Homo sapiens: one gene and its partners. The protein of the gene in region 4 purifies or fractionates together with the protein of the main gene of each other region. This does not show direct contact. Each region holds a gene or a part of one and is shown on either strand. Other genes may lie near its edges.

Region 1 (3,500 bases), on a different chromosome or scaffold from region 4:
TCACACCCCTGCATGACAGCCCTGCCAGTACTCACACTGTTTCCCTCTTCACATACCCTTCCCTTCCTGACCTACCTGCTAAGTTCTACCTCCTCCCCAGGAAGCTTTTCTGGTGTATTCCTTTCCCACCCTGAGTCTCCATCTCCTACTTCCAAGCACCACATTTCTCCTGGTAGTCTTGTGGTAGTGGTATGTACGTGTGTGTGTGTGTGTGTGTGTGTGTGTCTTCCTCTAGCTGACTGAGCTCATTGAAAGGCGATGATTTTAATTTGTTCTCCATGATTTCTCCTACAGCGCCTAGTACATAATAGGCAAACAATAAGTATTGCTGAAATTGAGCAATTTAGTTTGGGTGGCCCCATTAAAGAAACCTAGCATAATACTCTTTGGGAGCTAAATTTTCCTGAATGCTTTCTGCCTGCTGCAGCTCAGCTGGAGCTCTGAGCGGGCTGAGGGCCTTCTGCTTGCTAGCTGTCCCACATTCCCCCATGACTGCCACCCTTAGAGGGCTACTCTCCTGCCCCAGCCGCTGCACTGGGAGGTGTACGGACTGCTGGGGCTTTGGCTCTTCGAAGACTGCAGCTCCCCCATGCTCTAGAAGAGTCAGAAGGCCTTGGGTTCCCCTCCTGCTTCTGCTCCTGGTTAGTCAAGGCTATCACTGCCTATTATGTGCTAGGCATTATAGGAGAAATCATGGAGAACGAATTCCTCACCTTCCAATGAGCTCAGTCGGCCAGAGGGAGGAAGACACACACACACACACAAACACACACACAGACACACACACACACAAACATGTGTGCGTACATACTACTGGGCTTCGTTAGCTTAGCTATAAAGTAGCTCGAAGTCGCATGCCAGTTTGCACCCTAAATGTGTTAACGTATTGGATTTGGATTAGGTTTGGTAGTCACAATGTTTGGCCAAGTGCTTGGAACTGGAAGTGACCATAGAGATCACTTCTCATGAGATAAAAGTAGATTGTTCCTTTTATTTTTATGTTATTTTATTTTTGAGGAGTCTTGCTCTGTCACCCAGGCTGGAGTGCTGTGGTGCAATCTCGGCTCACTGCAACCTCCATCTCCCGGATTCAAGTGATTCTCCTGCCTCAGCCTCCCAGGTAGCTGGGATTACAGGCGCCCACCACCACATTTGGCTAACTTTTGTATTTTTTGTAGATACAGGTTTTCACCATGTTGGCCAGGCTGGTCTTGAACTCCTGACCTCAAGTGATCCACCCACCTCGGCCTCCCAAAGTGCTGGGATTATAGGCTTGAGCCACCGCGCCCAGCTGTTTCTTTTGTTTTGGAGATGAAGTAATTCAAGACTCTCCCAGGTCATACACGCTGTGAATGGTACTGTTGGCACTCAATGCCAGATCCCCTGACTTGAACTCTGAGGCTATTTTTCTCACTCCACAATGGAAAATAGCCTGGAAGTGGGAGAGAAGAAACTCATTTCTTCATTTCTGGCAGCAGATCACCAGGACCTGTCGGGAGGAGGGGAGAAGGATGGTGCTCCTTTCTTCTGTCTACCATTGAGTTCCATTTCTCTGTTACTCTGAAATAGAAGGGAGCTCGGGAGCATTGATGGAGTCCAGCAGATTTCTTTGGAGGATGCTCTTTCCAGCCAAGAGGTGGAGGTCGCCTATATCTGCAGTGAGAGCTCCAGCCATGAGGACTACATCAGGTGGGTTTTCCACACAGGCAGTCCTTGCCTTACACAGCAGTGCAGTACTGCAAAAATGAGCAAGCAAGCTAAAACACCCTGCAAAGGAGTCAGAAGAGCCAGTGAGAAAATTACAATTGCTCTGTGACCAATCACAGAAGTGTCAAAACATTAAGAAATTCTTATTGCTGGTTATAAATATATAAGGAAGTGAAAAATAGTAAAATTAATATTTAGTATGTGTAATTTGAAACATTAGAAACATTCAGAATTAAAGTGTTTTATTTCTCTGTAAAAACCCATCGAGAGTAGTTTTCAACAGTAGTGGCCTCCTTCTTCTCACCAGACAGTTTAGGATGTGGAGCCGGCATCCTTGGCAAATTATCATACTCCCTTCTCAGTTTGGATCAGCTTCCAACGTTTTCTCCTTTGTGCTTTCAATGTCATAAAATAACGGTTGAGTTCCTTTAACCCTCAGGACCTGGCAGCTAACAGGGAAGTGCCAGCTGCCTTCCTCAGTCTAGCTTCCTTCTAGGTTCTTACAGCTGCTCCCACCATGCTGTTTCCCACGGGTAAGATGCTTCCTCTTTATCAGTCTAGCTCTAGAGTAGACAAAAACACCTCTCCTTGGCTTTCCTTAACCTTTTCTGGCACCAGAGTGTATTTCCTTAAGAAAAGTGATTCTGACATAAGTCCCATGCTTATAAATATTTGTACTCTGGTATCCACAGAATGAAATCTGAACTGCTGAGCACAGAATTGTAGGTCCTTCACAGTCAGGCCCCCAGCTACTTTTCCAACGTTATTATCCTCCACGGCCTGTAGTCCACTCCCCTGCCACACTGAAGTTTGCCGATTGAACAAAGCCCCACAAATGCCCAAGCCCCTGCATACGCTGCTCACAGTGAAATATACTCACATGTTGCACCTGGAAAATGTCTGCTCATACTTTGAGACCCAGTTCATAGGTCCTTAGTGAAATCTTTTCAGACTGCCTCAGGCAAAGCTAGCCGCTGTGGGTTTTGTAGCCTTTATAGCTACCATGTGGTGATAGGAAATTTATTTGTTAATGTGTCTTTATTTCTCCTCCACAGTAATTGGTAAATAGTACTTAGTTGAATAAATGAATGGTTGAATGTTCAAATTAACACATAACCAGAAAGTTGATCTGTCACAGGATAGTAGAAAACAATGTGGGATACAGTTCTTCCTCCATATCCCGTGGCACTGACTCCTACCCCCAGTCATGACACATTCACACACAGAAACTCTCATGCCTTTATAACATTCTGTTCTCTATTATGCAGAGCATTTCAGTGAAGCTTATTCGAAGTGTTCTTTCTCTGTATTTGTCTCGTTTACCAAAGGCAGTTCCTTAATGCTGGCAAGCACGTCCTTGTGGAATACCCCATGACACTGTCATTGGCGGCCGCTCAGGAACTGTGGGAGCTGGCTGAGCAGAAAGGTAATGTATCTTACCAAGAGTTTCTGCCTCCAGGATTTCTGTGATATCATCTTTATGCCTTTAAAACTTAACCCCATTTCAGATATCTCCTCCTCCTGGCTACACTGGCACTGTGGGCTCCCAACTGCCTCCTCACCCCCACACTGTAAACACAGATAGTGGAGGGCAGAAGGATGGGTGGGAATTTGCAAACTTTTGGTCAAAGCTTATCAGCTTATTTTACTCACTCTAAGGAAAAAATATGAATTAGTTTTCACCTATGCTTATGTCATGATATTATTTTGGCTTTATTCATGTGATACTTATATTGCTAAATGCTGGGATATCCTAAAAATGCTCAAATCAGAGAAACTGATTGTCTTATTTG
Region 2 (3,500 bases), on a different chromosome or scaffold from region 4:
GGACACCCTCCCACCCCTACCCAGTATACCAAAACGTGCATACTCAGGTCCTATAGTTGGCCCCTGAGAATGTGGAGCCCAAGTATAGGAAAAGTCAGCCCTCCATACAGATGGGTTTCTCATTCAGACAACACGGTATTTTCCATCTGTGCTTGATTAAAAAAATTCCTCGAATAAATCCTTCAAAGTTCAAACCCCTGTGGCTGAAGGGTCAACTGTATGTATTTTCAAGTATATCACACATAAGGATGACTACTGTTTCACAAAACAATACACAAACACACAAACATGCATTTAAGCATAAACAGCGATTCAACACCAACATTTACTGAGCGATCACATGCAAAGCCCTGAGCCCAGGGATACAGATCCAGGCATTAGCAGCCCAAGGTCAGGGACACCACTCTCCAGACCACGATGTCGACATCAGGGCCATCCTTACTTTAGACCAGCAAGTGAGAAATCCAGGTTCCCCAGGGCTCCCTCAGGTTTGATAATTCCCTAGAATTACTCCCCAAACTCAGGAAAGCAGAACACTTACCATTACAATTTCATTATAGTAACAGCAACAAAAACAAAAACAAACAAACAAACAAAACAGCCAAAGCAAGTGACCTATAGGGCACATTCTGGGAGGTTCCCTAACAGGTAGCTCCACTGTCCTCTGGGACACCTTACTCTCCTGTCATCAACATGAGACAATATTCAAAGAGCACTGCCAACCCAGGAAGCTCCTCAGAGCCATAGTGCTCTGAGGTTTTATTGGGGTTTTCGGAGGGAGACACAATGGGTTGAATCACTGGCCATTCAGCTGAACTCTATCTCCACTTTATTTATTATATTTATTATAATAAAAGTGGGAAAATGAATGCTGATAAACAATACACTACAGCAGCACAGAAAAAGAACGATGCTACAAAGCAAAAACAAGATATAAGAAAATTTCTTACCAGAAAAAAGAAAGATTAGAGATGATATTAAAAGGATGATCAGGATCTTAATGGACAGAGGAAGGGAAAGGCATTTAACTCAGAGGGATTGTGGCACTAAGCAGGTGAGGCTGCGATGCTTCAGGTACAGAGAGCCAGTGTCTGGAAACTGACGGGCTGGTATACAGGAGCCCTAAAACACTGGGCCAACATTTGAACTTTGCGTAGCCACTATGAGGAGAAATAGAAAGTCCTATGGAAAAGGGTAATATGACTTATTCAACAAACATATTTTGTATGCCAACTCTATGTGCCAAGCACTGTGCCCTAACCTGAAGACAGAAAGTTGTTTAAAACACAGACCCTTCCTACAAGTTACCAAAATTACCGGCACAGCTAAGGAAACACTAGAAGAGCACATGACTGAATTGGAGAGACCTTGTAAGAGGCTCGTATGAAGGAGCAAATACAAGACAGTGTCAGAGTGGAAAGGTGTGGCAGCTTTCCTCACCCATCATAAAGGTCATGGAAGATACTCCTGTAACAAAAGACAGGTTAACAAGAGCCTTCAGAAATGAAGACCCAAAGACCCAGGGAAACGGTTTTGATGCTTAGATGACCAATGCACAGCTGTGTAGAAATGGCACTGGACAAAAGGAAATGATCCAATGGTAGCAGACTGAGGGAAACCCAGCAGGGCCACAGCATTTCCTCCCCCAGGAATGAGGCAGGGCCCCTCTGAAATGCTGTCTTCAAGAGAAGGCAAAAGGGAGAGAGTGATCTTTCTAGGTTTTATGGCTTGCTTTGCAGGAGAGGAGTTCTAGTTTCTATGATCTGCGCTGGGGAAGATAAATGATGGTTTCTACGACCTTGCTTCTGGGGCTGCTCTGAGGCCTTCCAGTCTCCTTAATGCCAAAGCACCACACTGAGTCCAGACATTAGGAGCTGAATTTAGGAAACAGATACGAAAAAGAGGAACTGTGAGAATAGGCAGCACTAACTAAGAGTTTACTCTTTATCACTATTAGGGTCTTCTGTTTATGATAAACAAATACAATGAGGATCTTCTAGTGTTGTAAAACACAGCTAATTCCCTAGTTCAGAAAACCAACTCACTGCCTTACTACAGCCTTCAGTTTCTACATTGTAAGACCTAAGCATATTACGTACTTTTTTCCCACAGAGACTGTAGTTTCCACAGCAGTAAAAAATCTTACCTACAAACCATAAAGGGAAAGACAACAAATTAGCCTTGAATACCCTCTATATGCTAATTTGTGTTGTGAAGTTTTTCCTTTCGACATTCTAAATTTTGTTTAGTTTTCTAAACAGGTATTGTCATCAGCACTATTTTAATTATTGAAAGGCTTCCCATGGGTGTGTAACTCTTTTACTTGTCACCATATACCCTGGGAATATTTTTAACAGCAAACATTGTATTCCAAATTAAGACAATTATTATTTTGGATCTGTAGAACAACAGATGCCTAGTATCTCAGCATCTAAAAATATAATAAAGACTAGCCCCACACGTTTACAAATAATTATCTTTAACTGTAAAATAACAGCTTACTTTCCCCACAACAATATGAAAACTTGCATTATTAACTGTCCTAAAGGCTAGCAGTAGCTTGCCCTGTTGATTTCGAAAGTTGATGCCACCAAATTTTGTTATGAAAAAATGGAGCACCCCGGTCATCAGTGAAACACTGCATGTACTTCAGGTTTCGCCTATCAAACAAGTTCTAAAAACAGAACATTCCATCTTCAAATGCCTTTAAAAAATGTTTCAATCTGTAAAGTCTCAAGTTTGTCTTTTCCAAATTAGGCAGACTATTTTATACCCTTCTTCAGCATCTTCAATTCAAGGATGGAGACTCATAAAAGGCAGATAGGCTCTGGGAGGGTGGGGCTGTGTCTGCTATACCTGGTAAGAGACCCAGCACCCAGTATGGGTGTAGCCCAGAAGTAAAGTGACTCCACCAGCATGTGCTATCTCCACCAACCATGCTGGCTGGGTCATGGCTCCTGCATCATCTTCACTAATAAGTCTCTATTGCAAAAACATAAAGCACCCTTCATAATTGTGCTGTAGTAAGGAGCTCAATTATTTTCCATCATTAGCTTCACCAATGAAAAACCTCTGATGCTTTTCTACACTTCAATCTCAATAGGGTCCAAACAAATGCTTTGAATGAACAAAGTTTTTTACATTTCAAAAGCATACAACTCTTACTGTCCTCTATATGGCTACCAAGTAAAATGCCATTTACCGCTCAAATTCCCTCAGAATGCAACCAGTAAAGGCATGCTCCACCTCCAGTTTCATCTCAAAACAACAGCTGAAACTCTTCTTTTTTAAACTTAAATTTGATCACTTCCCACCTCTGCTCAAAACCCTCCAATGTTTATTCAGAGTAAGCCCAAGTCTTCACATGGCCTCCCAAGATCTGGACCTAAAACAGGGGTCTGAAAATCGGCTCATGGTCCACTGCCTTTATGTACAGCCCACAGCGGTAAGAATAATTTTTACATTGTTGAGTAGTTGGAAAAAATCTAAAAGTAGAGTAC
Region 3 (3,500 bases), on a different chromosome or scaffold from region 4:
AGGAACTAGTGGGGCCTGACAAACATAGATTCACATCTGTGTGTCTCAAGATGCTGGAATAAAAGAACTGAGATTCCTGTCTGGAAACTGTTGGATTAAAATGGAAATTTTATAGCTGTGATAATCTCCTTCTACAGATGCCTTTTTAAAATTGACTATTGGTAGGAATTAGAATTTACAAGAGAGCAAATGAAGGATAGAAGAGAAATTCTCGAAGAGTAAAAAGTAATAAAACAAGGTCATAGGAAAAGGGAAAATAAGAACATACAGTAGGGAATAGATCTTGATAAATTACCTTTTAAAACAATAAATCTTGATTTATTTAAAATTGTAATGCTATTTTCTATATTTTTTAAATTATCTAGATTATTTGTTCACTAAGTGATCTGGGTTAGCATTTTTCCATTTTTAAGTAGTGTTCATGTGAATGTTTGTGTGGATGTAATGTGTGCTGTATACACAGTCTCTAATATTTTTGTTTGAACAAATAGCAAAATGAAATAAATTACTTTATGAGATTGATAAAGTCCTAGAGAAACAGACCCACTGTAGATGTTCCAATGAAAGGTGTACTTCATAGTCATTTTTCAACACTCACTAGCACTGAGTACACAGAATAACATGGCACTTTAATCACAAGTTATAAAGATAATTTTAAAACAATTTTATTTCTATATGAATATTCCACACTGCAAGGTTGCTTTAGAAGAGATGATCTTGTATTTTTAAAACTATATTACAACATTGCCATATATATGTATACTAGAAAATATTGGATGGTACTGTGGTTATTTTTTGTCAATAATTTCTCAATCAGTTAAAACTACGTGAGACATAAAACATTCCATAGAATTGAGTCAATTTCTCAGGTGTTTAAACTAATTTTGTTTTATGTTTATTACTCCACATGTCTTTATATCATTTATAAAGTTTACTGAAATTCATTGATTGATGCTTTGAAGCTGCTTAAATCTTGACCTTGTACTTATCTAATTTTTATAAAATAGTTGCAACTATCTTGTGAGTATAAGATTTTTATATATTTTTATATTCATTTCCTACTGGCACGTTAGTACCAAATATTTAGCTGGAAGAACATTTTGAGTTATTGATGTATGTACTCTACTGAGAAATGTGACAAGGGGTTTTTACAAAATTTGCTTATACTAGAAGGTAGATTTTTTTACTAGCTGATATATAAAATAAAGCAGGAAACAAAAAGCTTTTAACTGAATTTAAATAACTTTAAAATAATTTTCTATTAAATCCATCATTGATATCATCTAGAATGCACCTTTCCCCACACATATTATTGGAGCATTAGTTTAATATTTGAGTGTGAGGTAGAAGTAAAAAAAAATATAAAGTAACAACACAAAAAAATCATGAAGTAGAACACAACTTTGTTCATTTGGAGAAGTATCCCCTTGCTAAGTCTCACTGAGTGTTTTACTGCCACCTCTCTCCTCACATGGCATTTCTTCCTTTTTTGTTTAATCCCCCGAAGGCCCATATTCTGCCACGAGGAATCACACTTGAAAGCAGTGTAACAATTATGCATCTCTCTGACTCTTGCTTCTGCCCAAGAATTGAGCTTTTTAGCTGCATTATTAACCTGAAGACAGATCATCTGTTCTTTCTGAGCATACTTTTCTGTGTCCTCTGAGACAGCTCAAGACATTTTTCCAACTTCTCCATTTCTGCCATAGCACTAGTGAGTGACTTTGAGTTGAAATACAATTTAAAAATAATACATTCTCTCTCTTTTTTCTTTCTCTCGTTTCCTCTGTCCCTTCCACTCTCTTTCAGATTATTAGTTTATTAAATGTCTTCACACCCCAGAAAACGCTGGAGGAGTTCCAAGATGTGTAAGTAACAAAACTCATGAAGGAAGGGAGAGCACAGCACTCAGATAGCCCAAGGGAAAATCACACACCACACACACACACACACACACACACACACACACACACACACAGAGTTGAAATCCCTTATACTGCTCAAAGAGAGGTAAGAGGTGGGGTCAAATGAAAGGGGTCCAGTGATATGTAAAGAAGATTCTGTTTGTGGGGTTACTTCCTGGAAAGACATTCTGCCTCCTTTTGGCCTTGTGGCTTTATATACTTTGTTGTTCCATGCTCTTGGTCACTCAGGGAAGGCTTATTTATTTATATTTATTAATAGATTCCACAAACTTTCTACAATGAGTTAATTTACCTGAAGAAATAGTAATAAGGCCAGGCATGGTGGCTCACACCTGTAATTCCAGCACTTTGGGAGGCCGAGGCAGGTGGATCACAAAGTCAGGAGATCAAGACCATGCTGGCCAACATGGTGAAACCCCACCTCTACTAAAAATACAAAAATTATCCAGGTGTGGTGGCATGCACCTGTAGTCCCAGCTATTCAGGAGGCTGAGGCAGGAGAATTGCTTGAACCCGGGAGACGGAGGTTGCAGTGAGCTGAGATCGTACCACTGCACTCCAGCCTGGGTGACGGAGCGAGACTCCGTCTCAAAACAAACAAACAAAAAGAAATAGTAATAAAAGGGACGTGAAAATTATCTTTATTCTTTCTATCTTTATAGTGTCATTGATTTTGTGCAAAGTCTACCCAGTAGTGACAACAGATGGAGGAGAGGAAGTGATTCCCTAGCACCTTGTCTTTAATACAGATACATTGAATTTAATGGAAGAAGCTGTCCTTAATTTTTTTCTTATTTGAAATTATAATATTCACAAAAGAGTTGAGGGAATACAGGGGAAAGTGAAAGCAAAATTAAGGTAACAAATCTGTGGACATGAACCAGACATTAATAAATGCTTTTTCTACTAGCAACCTTTTGGTAGGGTTCGTATAGCTAACACACATGCAATACCTGGAAATGCTCAGTCTTGATTAAGTCAAAGGCAGAGCTAAGAAGTTCAGAAGACTTACAGAGTTAGGAGAGCATTCTGACTAAATCAAAGGACTTCATAGATCTTGTGATCTGGAACTAACACTGTGGATTCACCCTTCTAGTTACTTAGTAATGGAACTGATGGATGCCAACTTATGTCAAGTGATTCAGATGGAATTAGACCATGAGCGAATGTCTTACCTGCTGTACCAAATGTTGTGTGGCATTAAGCACCTCCATTCTGCTGGAATTATTCACAGGGTAAGAACACCTTCTCTAGGATTACAATTCAAATGCTTTAAGAGGAAGAGTAACTGTAGATTATTTTCTTTATACGGGGGGCATTGGTCAAATATAATATACTTCCTCATTTCTTTGATACTAGAATTAGCACCTAGTTCACTAATTGTAGAAGGAAATTCTAGTTATATTGTAGTTGAGTTTGTTCAATGTTATGTTTTGGCTCATTGAGATGCAGCTTCTTAGAAGCCTCATGCTTTCAGCTCCTTGATTGGCAGAAGTCATATGTGCAACTGAAATAAGAAAATTCATTTCCATAGATGTTTCTGGCAGCATAAAGACAGCTTCCCTGATCTGTTCT
Region 4 (4,055 bases):
AGGGGGCCGTCACTGGGACTCAGGGCACGGAGATCGCTGGGCGGGGCGGGGGTCTTCCCAAGTGTTGCGATCCAGGTCCTGGCAATCCGCCCACAATGGCCCGGGATTGGATTTTGCTTTCGGCCTATAACGGCCGCGACGACAGGGAGCGAGGGTTGTGGCCGGCTTCTGTTCCGGGTTGGAGGCCCCCAGCCCAGCGCTTAGTGGGCGCTCACTGTGTATACTGCCTATTTGTATAATAAAGAAAGGGATGGAGAAGCTCAGTCTGGAGCCAAGGTGACAGAAACGTGTCGGGCGGCCCCTGGGGGGCGCCGTCGAGTCGCGCTGCGGGTCGCCCCTCACCCCTCCAAACGCCAAACCCTGGAATCCACTGCGGGGCCTTGCGACCCCTCACCGGGATTTCAGCCCCCTGACCTGCCTCCCTTGGCTCCAAGTCTTCCGGGGGCCACAAGACTAGGAATAGCATTATTTCCCGGTGGGAGTTTGCTTGCTCACACTTTCATGGCAAATGTAGATATTTTAAAGCCACCTTAAAGAAAAGTCTGGGAAACAGGAAAGCATTGCCCTGAACCTCTCCGCCCCAACTCGCTCGAGTCGGTCTTGGTAGGGACGACTTTTCTATCGGCAGAGTTGTTCATTTTTCTCTAAACTTCATCTTAGGCGCCTATTTGCTGCCCCCACCCCAGTAGTGTGGTTCTGGGCAAGTCAGTCGCTTCGCCTGGGGAACCTCAGTTTCCCCGCCTGTTAGTGATGAGGAAATGAGGAAAAGGGGCACAAGAGTATGCAAAAGCACAGGAAGCCCCTTTCGGTTCAGGTCGGCGGCCGAGGGGCACGGGGAAGGGGACTCGGGGAGGGAGAGAGGGAGGAGCGGCGAGGCCAAGGCAGGTGGCACGTCGCCCGTTCTCCCGGCCGCTCGCATCCCGGAGGTCAGCCTCAGCTGGCAGCGAGCCCTCCTCCTCCCCGCTGGGCCTGGAGCGCGGCGCGGGTCCGGTCCCTGGGGACGCGCCAAGAGCAGGCCGGACAGCAGGGCGGGGGCCGGGCCGCGAGCCAGCGCGCGGCGAGCGGACCCAGCTCCGAGGCTGATGACGTCTCCCCCTCTGGCTCGGCGGCGCCTGGCCTGGCAGGGCGGGTGACGTCACCGCCCCGTCACGTGATCACCATTCAAACAAACACCCCCCCTCCCCCTGCGCGCGGGTCTGGCCCGCCCCGTCCCCCAGAGGCCGCATATAAACGCGCTCCCCGGGCCAGGCTCGCTGCGAAGGACATTTGGGCTGTGTGTGCGACGCGGGTCGGAGGGGCAGTCGGGGGAACCGCGAAGAAGCCGAGGAGCCCGGAGCCCCGCGTGACGCTCCTCTCTCAGTCCAAAAGCGGCTTTTGGTTCGGCGCAGAGAGACCCGGGGGTCTAGCTTTTCCTCGAAAAGCGCCGCCCTGCCCTTGGCCCCGAGAACAGACAAAGAGCACCGCAGGGCCGATCACGCTGGGGGCGCTGAGGCCGGCCATGGTCATGGAAGTGGGCACCCTGGACGCTGGAGGCCTGCGGGCGCTGCTGGGGGAGCGAGCGGCGCAATGCCTGCTGCTGGACTGCCGCTCCTTCTTCGCTTTCAACGCCGGCCACATCGCCGGCTCTGTCAACGTGCGCTTCAGCACCATCGTGCGGCGCCGGGCCAAGGGCGCCATGGGCCTGGAGCACATCGTGCCCAACGCCGAGCTCCGCGGCCGCCTGCTGGCCGGCGCCTACCACGCCGTGGTGTTGCTGGACGAGCGCAGCGCCGCCCTGGACGGCGCCAAGCGCGACGGCACCCTGGCCCTGGCGGCCGGCGCGCTCTGCCGCGAGGCGCGCGCCGCGCAAGTCTTCTTCCTCAAAGGTACGCCCTCGGGGAAGCTCGGGGCGGGCCGCACACCCCTGAGGTTTTGCCCGGTACCCCTGGCTCTCGGCTCCCGGGGGATCGCCCCACCTGCAGCGCGTGGGCGCTGGAGTACATTTATCTCTGGAACTTGTCATTGGCTTTGTTTGGCTCTGGAAACAAAGACTTGCCTGGGCCTTTCCGATGTAAACTTCCAGCCCTTGGTGGGTGGGGGAGTTGTATGAAGGTGCCGTGTCCCGGTGTCACTAATGGGGAAAAAAAATGTCTTTGTATTCCCAGGAGGATACGAAGCGTTTTCGGCTTCCTGCCCGGAGCTGTGCAGCAAACAGTCGACCCCCATGGGGCTCAGCCTTCCCCTGAGTACTAGCGTCCCTGACAGCGCGGAATCTGGGTGCAGTTCCTGCAGTACCCCACTCTACGATCAGGTTAGTAGGTGTCCCTGCCACAGGGAAGAAGTAAGAACTGGCAAAGGCATGGAAGAGTAGTGCCAGGGAGAATATAGAAAGTGACCTGCAGCATTATTTATAACGGAGGGGACACAGGGATATGATTTATTCCACAGTTAAGTGGTCTGACGGAGCCGAGTCTCCAATTGTAGGCTCTACGGAAATGAACTTGCTGGTCCTGCCCAGGCAAATGGGCTTAGTTCCCTATTTATTTATCCTCCAGCAACAGAACTGAGTTCACTCGGTATCTGAAATTGACTTTTCCAGCAGAAAGTTTTTGTGGGTATGGGCACTGGCCTTGGCTTTGAGCAAGCTTGATGAATGTTGGATATTTCTGGATTTCAGGGTGGCCCGGTGGAAATCCTGCCCTTTCTGTACCTGGGCAGTGCGTATCACGCTTCCCGCAAGGACATGCTGGATGCCTTGGGCATCACTGCCTTGATCAACGTCTCAGCCAATTGTCCCAACCATTTTGAGGGTCACTACCAGTACAAGAGCATCCCTGTGGAGGACAACCACAAGGCAGACATCAGCTCCTGGTTCAACGAGGCCATTGACTTCATAGGTAAATGGAATGGATGCCTGGGGCTTTTCTGCCTTTCTCTTCTCATTTTAGCCACTAAGCCCAACCTCTGTGGCAAGAGCTTGAAGTTTTCTGAGCCTTCTTCCACACATTCAGTATCAGTCTGGTGTGGGCAACATTCCTGTAAAATATGAATTTGATTCGATGTCCCACTTTACAGATTTGCAAAGTGGGGCTCACAAAGTTGAATTGACTGGTCTGAGATCTATCTGCTAAGTGGAAATCCCCAGTCTGAGTTTAAATCCTGTGCCATCCTTTGCACAGTGCCCACGTTGCCTCCATGAACAGTATCCATGTGATGGCATGTGGTGATGTTGACCATTTCTAGACAAGACACACATGACCTTTCTCAGATACACTGTACCTGGGCTTGGGGTGGTTCTCCTGAACTCTCAAGTAACCAGCCGCTCCTTTGGTTTTCCAGACTCCATCAAGAATGCTGGAGGAAGGGTGTTTGTCCACTGCCAGGCAGGCATTTCCCGGTCAGCCACCATCTGCCTTGCTTACCTTATGAGGACTAATCGAGTCAAGCTGGACGAGGCCTTTGAGTTTGTGAAGCAGAGGCGAAGCATCATCTCTCCCAACTTCAGCTTCATGGGCCAGCTGCTGCAGTTTGAGTCCCAGGTGCTGGCTCCGCACTGTTCGGCAGAGGCTGGGAGCCCCGCCATGGCTGTGCTCGACCGAGGCACCTCCACCACCACCGTGTTCAACTTCCCCGTCTCCATCCCTGTCCACTCCACGAACAGTGCGCTGAGCTACCTTCAGAGCCCCATTACGACCTCTCCCAGCTGCTGAAAGGCCACGGGAGGTGAGGCTCTTCACATCCCATTGGGACTCCATGCTCCTTGAGAGGAGAAATGCAATAACTCTGGGAGGGGCTCGAGAGGGCTGGTCCTTATTTATTTAACTTCACCCGAGTTCCTCTGGGTTTCTAAGCAGTTATGGTGATGACTTAGCGTCAAGACATTTGCTGAACTCAGCACATTCGGGACCAATATATAGTGGGTACATCAAGTCCATCTGACAAAATGGGGCAGAAGAGAAAGGACTCAGTGTGTGATCCGGTTTCTTTTTGCTCGCCCCTGTTTTTTGTAGAATCTCTTCATGCTTGACATACCTACCAGTATTATTCCCGACGACACATATACATATGAGAATATA
Region 5 (2,636 bases), on a different chromosome or scaffold from region 4:
GAGAATCACTTGAGCCCAAGCAGTTAAGGCTGCAGTGAGCCATGATCACGCCACTGCACTCCACGTGACAGAGTGACAATCTGTCTCGGGGGAAAAAAAAGAGGCAAAGTGGGCACAGCGTGGGGAGGGCAGGAGACTGGGGAAGTGGGCGAAGTGCTGCTCTTCTGGGGTTGGAAACCCAGACTCAGGGGGTGGGGTTCAGTCTCTGGAGCTCTCTGAGCGTGGAGGTAATCTGCTGGAAGGGGCATTTCGGAAGCTGAGTTTTGTGGCACTGTATCTCGTGCTGAAGCAGAGGCTGTGGGTTTAGGAGGCAGAGGCCCAGGCAGCTGTGGTGTAAGCGAATGCATTTGTGGTGGGAGGGTCCTGGGCAGGAAGGCAGCGTGCATGGGACCTCATGTTGGGGAGCTCACACCTGGAGGTGGGGGGCATTGCTGTCACCCCAAGCTGAGGGTTGAAATCCAAGAGGTTGATCTTGTGATTTACAGATCTCTCTCATGTAAGAGGAGCAACAGGAAAGCACGTGAGAAAGGCCTGCAGCACTGAGTGCTCAGGGCTAAGGTGACAGTACTGCTCCCAGAGACCCTGACGGTCTCAGCAGGGCATGGGCACAGAAATCCTCTGGGTATTAGAGACAGACGCCTACCAAAGCACAGGGCGTCATCCCACGGTCACCCTGATGAGCCTGGTGTCTCCCTCTGTTAGGTGATGCTGTGTAACCCCATCTGCGGCGTCAGCTATGCCCTGACAGTGTGGCGATTCTTCCGCGATCGAACAGAAGAAGAAGAAATCTCACTAATTCACTTTTTTGGAGAGGAGTACCTGGAGTATAAGAAGAGGGTGCCCACGGGCCTGCCTTTCATAAAGGGGGTCAAGGTGGACCTGTGACGGGCAGTGGCCCCGGTGACCTTGGGGCCTCCGACCCTGTGCAGCCTGGGACAAAACTGTTTCCGGTTGGCCGCTGCCACATGGATTTTCTTAATCGTTTTATGTCATTAGTCACTCTTCTGGAATGTCACTCAAGACCAAGCGGTCAGAAGGCCTGAGGACCCAAGGCCCCACTGGAGCAGTCTGTCCTTATGCCGAATCAAGGCGGAACATGGGTGAAAGACGAGTAAGGGGCAAATCACAGCAATATTCCACAGCGCCCTCCAGAGTTACCTGGGGAGGACCGAGGCCACACGCCACTGCCCCCGAGGCCAGAGTGTAAGTAAAGGATAACCAGGACTCGCTGGGAGAGATGGACTCTGTCCTCAGCAACACTCCACAGCAGAAAGGGGTAGCAGGTACCCCTTCTTATCAGCGGTAAAAATGCATTTACAACCTTTCATTTAACCGAAAAACACAGACCGCTTTAACCTCTTTATTTCTGTCCCCCACTGCATGAACATCTATACAATTTTAAAAATACTTCCTCATAGGATGCTTTGGCCCTTCATCTATTTAATCATAGCTACATACCTATTTTTTATAAGTAGCAGTACACATTCAAAGGGGTATTCCTAGCTCAATGCTTGGTGTTCTAGTTCAACTTTTATCCTGCAGCAAGTAAGCCTAGATAACTCTACACGATTTGGCTGAGTGGCTTTGTGTGACCGTGGCCCCAGGCCAAGGGGATCATGGCCCTGGCTGGCTTTCCCGGGGGTCTCAGCTCCTGTTGTCAGTGATAGGCGGCTCAAAGGAGCATCAGTTTCTTTTGATCCAAGAAGTGCTTACTGAATGCCTGCCCTGTGCGTGGCCTTAAACATTGAGAAGTGCTGCTCTCCGTTTATTTGGGATTTGATTCTCATTTTACCATAGCTTATATTCTCAATTTCAATGCCAGTCTCAGAACTCTTGTTTTCTGTGTTCTGTTCTCAAAATTACATTGTCCCTCATGTCATTTCAAACTGTTTTCCAAAGGGATTTGAGCATATACAACTACAAATCCAAGCAGATTGACTCTCAAAAATAATCTTAAATACTGCAAATAGTCCCAACTAAGATTCAGTCAGTATGTTTGTTTTGCAAGTTTGGGAGAGTAAGTTGGCTTTGAGTCACACATCGAAGCTTTAAGAGGTGAGACGCTGGCTTCATTCTGGACTAGACAGGAACTTGGCCTCAGCGTGAGATCCTGCCATGCAGTGTTGCGGTGGCACTGAAGAAGTGTGAATGTGAAGGCGGCGTCGGCGCGGGGCCAGAGCACCACTCTGCTGCCCCACCACGCGGCCTGTGAGGAGCCACTAAACCTTTCCGTGCCTAGACCTCCCCATCTGTGGAATGGGGTCAATACCACCTACCTCACAGGGGTGTTGTGAGGACTGAGAAGAACAATGTCAAATGTTTTTAATACTCAGATGTGGGAGCGACATCAATGAAATCTGTACTGTATGAAAGCTACACAAAAATGGGCAGACATTTGGTTAATTGTGCCAGATACCTAAAATGTATGTTCAGAAAAGCATTTTATCAACTCAGAAATATGACTTATTTCTAGATTTCATGGCTTAATGAATTTTTTCATTGTTATATATACCAAAGAGGCTTACGGGTTCATTGATTGGTTTGAAAACCAGACAGACGGCCGGGCGCGGTGGCTCACGCCTGTAATCCCAGCAATTTGGGAGGCCAAGGCGGGTGGATCATGAGGTCAGGCGTTC
Region 6 (3,500 bases), on a different chromosome or scaffold from region 4:
GCCACCTTTGACATATTGGTAGAGCTCCAGGGTGTTCCTGCCATCTTTGACATGTCAGTGGAGCTCCAGGACATTCACACCGGGATATTTGTGGATTGTGTAGAGACTTGAAAAATGTTGAGCCTTGGCATCAAAACCAAGATGGGAGCTGTGTCTTGACATGATCGGGAATAGAGGGCACCATACCTGTGACACTGTGTCTCCTAGACTCTGCTTTGCCAAACACTTGGGACCACTTTTACCTAGAGCTTCCTCCATGCACTGTGAAGAGGCAGCACAAGCCTATACCAAAACATCAATTTTGTGTGTGTAACATTAGGAGGGAATCCACCTCAGTGAGAGCAGCAGCCGAGAGAATTGTCTGAGAGTGGTTACTCAATAGCACCTGGTTTGGGTTCTTTTCTCCAATCCCCATCCTCTTTCCAGTGCCCATTCATTACTTCAGGGATGGTTAATTTTGAGCTTAGCTGTTAATGGACATGAGATCAAGTCTCTTAAAAAACAATGAGGCCAGGCATGGTGGCTCATGCCTGTAATCCCAGCATTTTGGGCAAGGCCGGAGGATTGCTTGAGCCCAGGAGTTTGAGACCAACCTGGACAACATAGGGAGACCCAGTCTCTACAAAAAAACAATTTAAAAATTAGCTGGGAATGGTGGCTTGCACCTGTAGTTCCAGCTACTTGGGAGGCTGAGGCAGGAGGATCACTTGAGCCCAGGATGGTAAGGCTGCAGTAAGCTGTGATTGCACCACTACCATCCAGCCTGGGCAACAGAGCAAGACCCTGCCTCTCAAAACAACAACAGCCGGATGTGGTGGCACATGCTTATAATCCCAGCTACTTGGGAGGGTGAGGATTACTTGAAGCCAGGAGTTTGAGACCAGCCTGGGCAAAATAATGAGACCCCCATCTTTAAAAGAACAACAAAAACAAGTTCCTTTTTTGTAGGAGGTCCTTAAAGTGCCTGTCAGGTCATTATAACTAGAATTATGGTCACATTTGGTCTTGCTTTATGGGTGTGGCATAACCTTGGCTATATATCCCAGGATTATAGTGTTCTTTTTCAACATACAAAGATATTTAACCCATTTTCATACTGCTAGTTTTCAAAATGTTAATTTTGCATTGAAAAAGATAATGGTTCAGGCCAGGCGTGGTGGCTCATGCCTGTAATCCCAGCCCTTTGGGAGGCCGAGGTGGGCAGATCACCTGAGGCTGGGAGATCGAGACCAGCCTGACCAACATGGAGAAACCCCATCTCTACTAAAAATACAAAATTAGCCAGGCGTGGTGGCGCATGCCTGTAATCCCAGCTACTCGGGAGGCTGAGGCAAGAGAATCACTTGAACTTGGGAGGCAGAGGTTGCAGTGAGCTGAGATCGCGCCATTGCACTCCAGCCTGGTCAATAAGGGCGAAACTCTGTCTCGAAAAAAATAAAAAAAAAGAAAAAGGTAATAGTTCATTTAGTGTTAACTTTACCTTGTACACATTTGTAAGTGGAGATACACCAACAACTCAACTCCACAGCCCTTATCTAGCTGCTGCTTGGGTGGACCTCTCTACATGATATTACTCTATTGCTTTTATTAAATTCAAAAGGTGCTGCTTTGTAATAAATTTACAAGTCCTAGACATTAACCTAGTAAAATTGGGTTAATGCTACTAAAAATATGTGAAAAGGATAGTGTATTTCGTGTGTCATTTTAAGAATATAATAGTGGTATATCATTTATCCCCTATCAAATTGATAAATATCTTTAAATAACAGCGCTCTGTGCATTTGAAGATTCAAGGACACAAATGCTCTCTCCTAAACTGCTATGGGATCATAAATGTTGAAACCATTCCAGGGGCCCACTGGGCAATAGTTAACAATTCTACTAGGAATTTGTCCTGTGTGCAAAGTTGTAGTTGCAAAGATGCCAATGGTGACAGTGTGTGTAACTGTAAAAGGTTGGATACAACAGATATCTAACTATAAAGGATCAGTTGCAAAAACTATGGTAAATCAATAGAATGTTAAACAGTCATTAAAAATTATACTGATACTGCAGTTGAGTCATGTGTAAATTATACTGAAAGGTACTTAGTGACATTGAAAAATGTTTTAGAATATTAACTGTTTTTTTAAAGGTTAGAACATAGTATGTACAATATTAACCCATTTTTATAAGCAATAATATGTTTATATTTAAGAAAGACAGTAAAGATAGTGGATTAGGATTTTATTTGCACTTACATATTTCTGAATTTTCAATAATATGTATGATGATTAAAATGAGAAAAAAATGAGTCATAATTTTATACTGATATTTATAAGAGTTTTTGATAAGGGGGAAATGGCCTTGAGTGGTGGAGAAACCAGGCTGTAATGTTGGATATGAAGCCTGACCAGGCTGATGCGTTGTGATTACTTGTTTAACTGTTAACCGTAAGCCCTGAGGGAGCAGAGATGGTGTCTGTCTTGCTCACCACTGTATGTTCAGTGCCTGGCATGGCACCATATAGGCACCTATTAAATGGGAGTGAATGAACCAGTCTTGCGGGAGGGTCTTTCTTTTTTTTTTTTTTTTTGAGACGGAGTCTCGCTCTGTCGCCCAGGCTGGAGTGCAGTGGCAGGATCTCGGCTCACTGCAAGCTCCGCCTCCCGGGTTCACGCCATTCTCCTGCCTCAGCCTCCCAAGTAGCTGGGACTACAGGCGCCCGCCACTACGCCCGGCTAATTTTTTGTATTTTTAGTAGAGACGGGGTTTCACCGTTTTAGCCGGGATGGTCTCGATCTCCTGACCTCGTGATCCACCCGCCTCGGCCTCCCAAAGTGCTGGGATTACAGGCGTGAGCCACCGCGCCCGGCCGGGAGGGTCTTTCTTGATGTTGGTTTCTGACGAAGCTCCCCTGTCCTGCTGCATTTCAGAGCCATGGAGAAGCTAAGCGGGCATCAGTTTGAGAACTACTCCTTCAAGATTTCCTACATCCCGGATGAAGAGGTGAGCTCCCCTTCGCCCCCTCAGCGAGCCCAGCGTGGGGACCACTCTTCCCGGGAGCAAGGCCACGCCCCTGGGGGCACTTCTCAGGCCAGACAGATTGATTTCCCGCTGCGGATCCTGGTCCCCACCCAGTTTGTTGGTGCCATCATCGGAAAGGAGGGCTTGACCATAAAGAACATCACTAAGCAGACCCAGTCCCGGTACGTGCCTGTGGGGCTTCCTTTGCTTCCTTCTGAGGGGTCCCCTGCGTGCTGGTGGGTCTCAGCCACTCTTAGGTCACAATTGCTTACATCAGCAGTGGGGGGCTGTGCTGTAAGAGACAGTGGCTTCTTTCAACAGGACTACTAACAGACTAACATCAAGCTGGGGGCTGTGACAAGCTTTCATGCTGAGAGGCTAAAAGTTCATAAAGAGGGTACTGATAACCTCACAGCCAGGACTGTTCCTGTAAGCGAACTAATGCTTATGGATGCATTGATTTCTACAAAAGCAGAGGTTTGGAGCTCTGCGGG
Region 7 (3,118 bases), on a different chromosome or scaffold from region 4:
TCTCTGTGAATTGTTTTGTTAGCTATTTATGAAAATTATGGTAGACAAAACATTGAAAATAAAACTGCAGGGCCACAGAACACCTTCTGGTTATAAATACTTGAACTTTATCTGGGGTTATTTTGTGTGTATGTTTTCATGCCAAGGGAAAAACTCCACAATCCTAATAGATGGAGTTGTTTTCCTACTAACCATATATCCAGTAATGGACTTTACCCTCTTTCTTCTTTTTGATACAGAGCAATTACACATACATATGTGTGTTGCTTCTGAAAAGATCATGCACCTTGCTTCCTGCAGATTGGGTATCCATGGATACCGCAAAGAGTTTCCAAAGAAACACTGCCTAGAATTTTCACCATGCCAGCCTCGAAGGCCTTCAAATGGAAAGTGACATTTGAATTAAAGGGACAAGCATCATTGCTCCACACCAAAACACTGGGCAGGTTTGCAGAAATCGTATTCTTTTTTGCACTATTCAATGTAAAGGCAGACAGGGTGGATTATTTATCCTATAAAAGGGAAAAGAGAGGAAGAAATCGGGTTGATATATTCCCTACCTGAGGCTCAATGACCCCAGTTCCTATTTATATTTCTCACCTGATGATACATGCTTTTACAATAAAGGTCTCAAGATTTATAAGTCAGACAGGGAAAAATATACAAAGGAATACAAGTTGCATTTTTATATGCCCCGGTTTATATCTCTAAATGACAAAAAGTATTGGGAAGAGGGGCAGAGCCTATTAGTAGGTTTACAAGCCTATGATTAGAAGTCTGAAGCAGTCTGCAGTGAAATTCAAAATCTGGCTCAAGAGAGTAAATCTGAATAAGGCAGCAATTTCATCTGGGGAGAGAATACATCACTAGTACATTTTCTTTTCTGGATTCTTATCACTAAATCAGCTGAAGAATCTGTTCTTAAAAGCAATCATAATGAAATTTTCTATTATTCAATGAACCTAGCCTTCGGGGATATCGGTAATTAAGTCAGAATAAGATGATTTTAAATCTCCAATAAATATTCTAATATTTTAGGTGTTTAATATTTATTTATTTAGTTCATAAACAGGCACTGCCACCTCCAGTGTTCATCCATGGCACTTTCATGACCGCTTCCTGTTCTGTGGCTTCTTTTAGTGCCCAAGTTGTATCACATTTCTTGCTGAAGTTCAGACAATTGAAAACAAACAGACTCACATCTAGGGAAATCAACAGACCAACAATGGCAAAACACAATACAATGAAATGGAAAAATAATGTTTGTTACAGGAGTGCAGCAATTTAGAGAGTGTCTCAGGAGTGTGGCTCACTGGCAGCTGCAGCTATGTTAGTGCTTCTTTCTGCCTCAAGTTCAGAAACAAGCTGGACTATCTCAGGGTGATTGAATTTTCCTGCAAAGCAAAAGAACAGGGAAAAATACATTCCCATATTGACAAGAGAGTATATTCATTTCCCCAGCTTGATCCCAGGGTTCACTGGGGGCTCTAGTCTACGATCTGACCCACACTTCATTCCAAAGCAGAAAGAGATTCCAGGTCCTGGGAAGGGGCTGAAGGGGACCACTTGGCATTTACGCTCTGTCACCCCAGGTGCAACTGAGAATAAGGATGAGACTCAGGCAAGGAATCATCAATTAGGCAGAGGTAGGGGAAACTTCACCAGGCTCCTCAGTGCCTCTACCAGGAACTATGGGAAAACTCAGGTGTGAGAGCCCAGAAAGCTGAAGACAATCTCTGCCCATTCCAAACCTGCAATTAAGTAAGGAGAATGAAGCACCTATATATGAAAAGACAAGGAGGAAGATCAGAGGGGCTAGGCTGGCTCATGATGTAAACAAGGATGCAGGTGTCTCTCTTGTAAACACCTCTACACTTCAATTGGCTGATCTGTGCTGTCATCCCTGCTCCTCAGACCTCCCCAGATTTCTGCTTTGGTAGCAACCAAGCTCTAAGCTATTGTATGTCCATGACGGCTAGCATGGGGGACTGTTCAACCCAACATCTCTTCTCTCACCGTCTTTTCTTGCCTGTGTCTGTTGTTGCTTACTGTTCATTCCACATTAAACTCTATTCCATTTATTTCCTATCCTCAGCCTCTTACCCGAATGTTTCCTTCCCTTTCTTTTTAGATGCTCCACATGAAAGGGTCAGATGAAGGTACCAACAGTGGGTTTCCCTAATATTAACATTAGTCACTACACTGAGTAAGCCAAACTAAAATGGACTCTTGTTGAAAATGGTGTTGAGTACCTGCTGTGGAATCATAGAAGTCTTGCAGTCTCCCAGGTTTGTGTTCAAGGTCTTCATATTCAGATGCTTGAAGAATCATTTCACATTGGTCTAGCTGCTTCACAAATTTGGCTTCTGCACTAGATTGGGTCTCGTACTCCTAAGTAAAGGGACAATTAAAGCAGCATGATTAGCGCTGCATAATAGGGTATCCTGGGAAAATTCTGACTCTGGTACCCGAAATCAGAGTGACAGCTACAAGTACATTCTGTATCGGCCCCATTTCTCTACTGTTTAGAAATCCATCAGAGACACTTCTGTAATTTCACAGCCTAACACCAGGACTCTATACAAGAAAGATGTGCTCTCCATTCTAAGTATTCTACCAGAAGCCATGGAAATCTTGTATGTTCATCTTAGGTACTTTCAAGATCTTTTCTTCCTGTTTAATACCGTGTCTTCATTTTAAGACCATTGTTCTTTAATCTACCTAAGTAGTTTAGATATTTTTAACATCAAGCTGATATTTCGTCTTATGCCTCTCAAACCTGTATTTCCCTCTCCATTTCATGTCAGGTTTCCTTGTCATTTCTAAGTGTATTTCTAGCTTTATCATTTACTTTTGGTTACCACTTTACCTGGGAATCTCTGTGCTTACTTTCCACATAGGGTAGATTTAATTAAGTCCCTCTGAGTTAAGACTATTGAGGATAGAGCCAAGATCTGAGGATTTTACATGCACCGGTATGTGCATGTGTTGCAGGTGGGAGGTGGTGAATGTGGTGGGGGGAGCAGTTTTTTTACCTTTCCCTTCCCACTGGTCCCTCCCTCTGCAGTGCAGACTTGGAACAAGAAGCTCCAGGAGTTCTGCTTCTTATAGAATGATG

The links.
Region 1: the proteins of DUSP1 (region 4) and BLVRA purify together in Homo sapiens (affinity purification with mass spectrometry, with the first as the bait; one large-scale study listed by BioGRID). This does not show direct contact.
Region 2: the proteins of DUSP1 (region 4) and ACP1 purify together in Homo sapiens (affinity purification with mass spectrometry, with the first as the bait; one large-scale study listed by BioGRID). This does not show direct contact.
Region 3: the proteins of DUSP1 (region 4) and MAPK10 purify together in Homo sapiens (affinity purification with western blotting, with the first as the bait; one study listed by BioGRID). This does not show direct contact.
Region 5: the proteins of DUSP1 (region 4) and ICMT purify together in Homo sapiens (affinity purification with mass spectrometry, with the first as the bait; one large-scale study listed by BioGRID). This does not show direct contact.
Region 6: the proteins of DUSP1 (region 4) and IGF2BP2 purify together in Homo sapiens (affinity purification with mass spectrometry; one large-scale study listed by BioGRID and IntAct). This does not show direct contact.
Region 7: the proteins of DUSP1 (region 4) and HDDC2 purify together in Homo sapiens (affinity purification with mass spectrometry, with the first as the bait; one large-scale study listed by BioGRID). This does not show direct contact.

The regions. Positions count from the first base shown.
Region 1 is NC_000007.14:43,789,680-43,793,179, forward strand, and holds part of BLVRA (biliverdin reductase A), read left to right. Parts: intron 1-1,569; coding exon 1,570-1,689; intron 1,690-3,035; coding exon 3,036-3,133; intron 3,134-3,500. UniProt on the Homo sapiens protein: Reduces the gamma-methene bridge of the open tetrapyrrole, biliverdin IXalpha, to bilirubin with the concomitant oxidation of a NADH or NADPH cofactor. Does not reduce bilirubin IXbeta.
Region 2 is NC_000002.12:267,947-271,446, reverse strand, and holds part of ACP1 (low molecular weight phosphotyrosine protein phosphatase), read right to left. Parts: intron 1-3,500. UniProt on the Homo sapiens protein: Acts on tyrosine phosphorylated proteins, low-MW aryl phosphates and natural and synthetic acyl phosphates with differences in substrate specificity between isoform 1 and isoform 2.
Region 3 is NC_000004.12:86,101,554-86,105,053, reverse strand, and holds part of MAPK10 (mitogen-activated protein kinase 10), read left to right. Parts: intron 1-1,809; coding exon 1,810-1,868; intron 1,869-3,021; coding exon 3,022-3,160; intron 3,161-3,500. UniProt on the Homo sapiens protein: Serine/threonine-protein kinase involved in various processes such as neuronal proliferation, differentiation, migration and programmed cell death.
Region 4 is NC_000005.10:172,768,396-172,772,450, reverse strand, and holds the start of DUSP1 (dual specificity protein phosphatase 1), read left to right. Parts: upstream 1-1,255; 5' UTR 1,256-1,498; coding exon 1,499-1,865; intron 1,866-2,144; coding exon 2,145-2,290; intron 2,291-2,656; coding exon 2,657-2,876; intron 2,877-3,318; coding exon 3,319-3,689; 3' UTR 3,690-4,055. UniProt on the Homo sapiens protein: Dual specificity phosphatase that dephosphorylates MAP kinase MAPK1/ERK2 on both 'Thr-183' and 'Tyr-185', regulating its activity during the meiotic cell cycle.
Region 5 is NC_000001.11:6,223,329-6,225,964, reverse strand, and holds part of ICMT (protein-S-isoprenylcysteine O-methyltransferase), read left to right. Parts: intron 1-702; coding exon 703-885; 3' UTR 886-2,636. UniProt on the Homo sapiens protein: Catalyzes the post-translational methylation of isoprenylated C-terminal cysteine residues.
Region 6 is NC_000003.12:185,689,043-185,692,542, reverse strand, and holds part of IGF2BP2 (insulin-like growth factor 2 mRNA-binding protein 2), read left to right. Parts: intron 1-2,915; coding exon 2,916-3,188; intron 3,189-3,322; exon of another isoform or gene 3,323-3,435; intron 3,436-3,500.
Region 7 is NC_000006.12:125,274,850-125,277,967, forward strand, and holds the end of HDDC2 (5'-deoxynucleotidase HDDC2), read right to left. Parts: intron 2,392-3,118; coding exon 2,253-2,391; exon of another isoform or gene 2,252-2,252; intron 1,395-2,251; coding exon 1,297-1,394; 3' UTR 501-1,296; downstream 1-500. UniProt on the Homo sapiens protein: Catalyzes the dephosphorylation of the nucleoside 5'-monophosphates deoxyadenosine monophosphate (dAMP), deoxycytidine monophosphate (dCMP), deoxyguanosine monophosphate (dGMP) and deoxythymidine monophosphate (dTMP).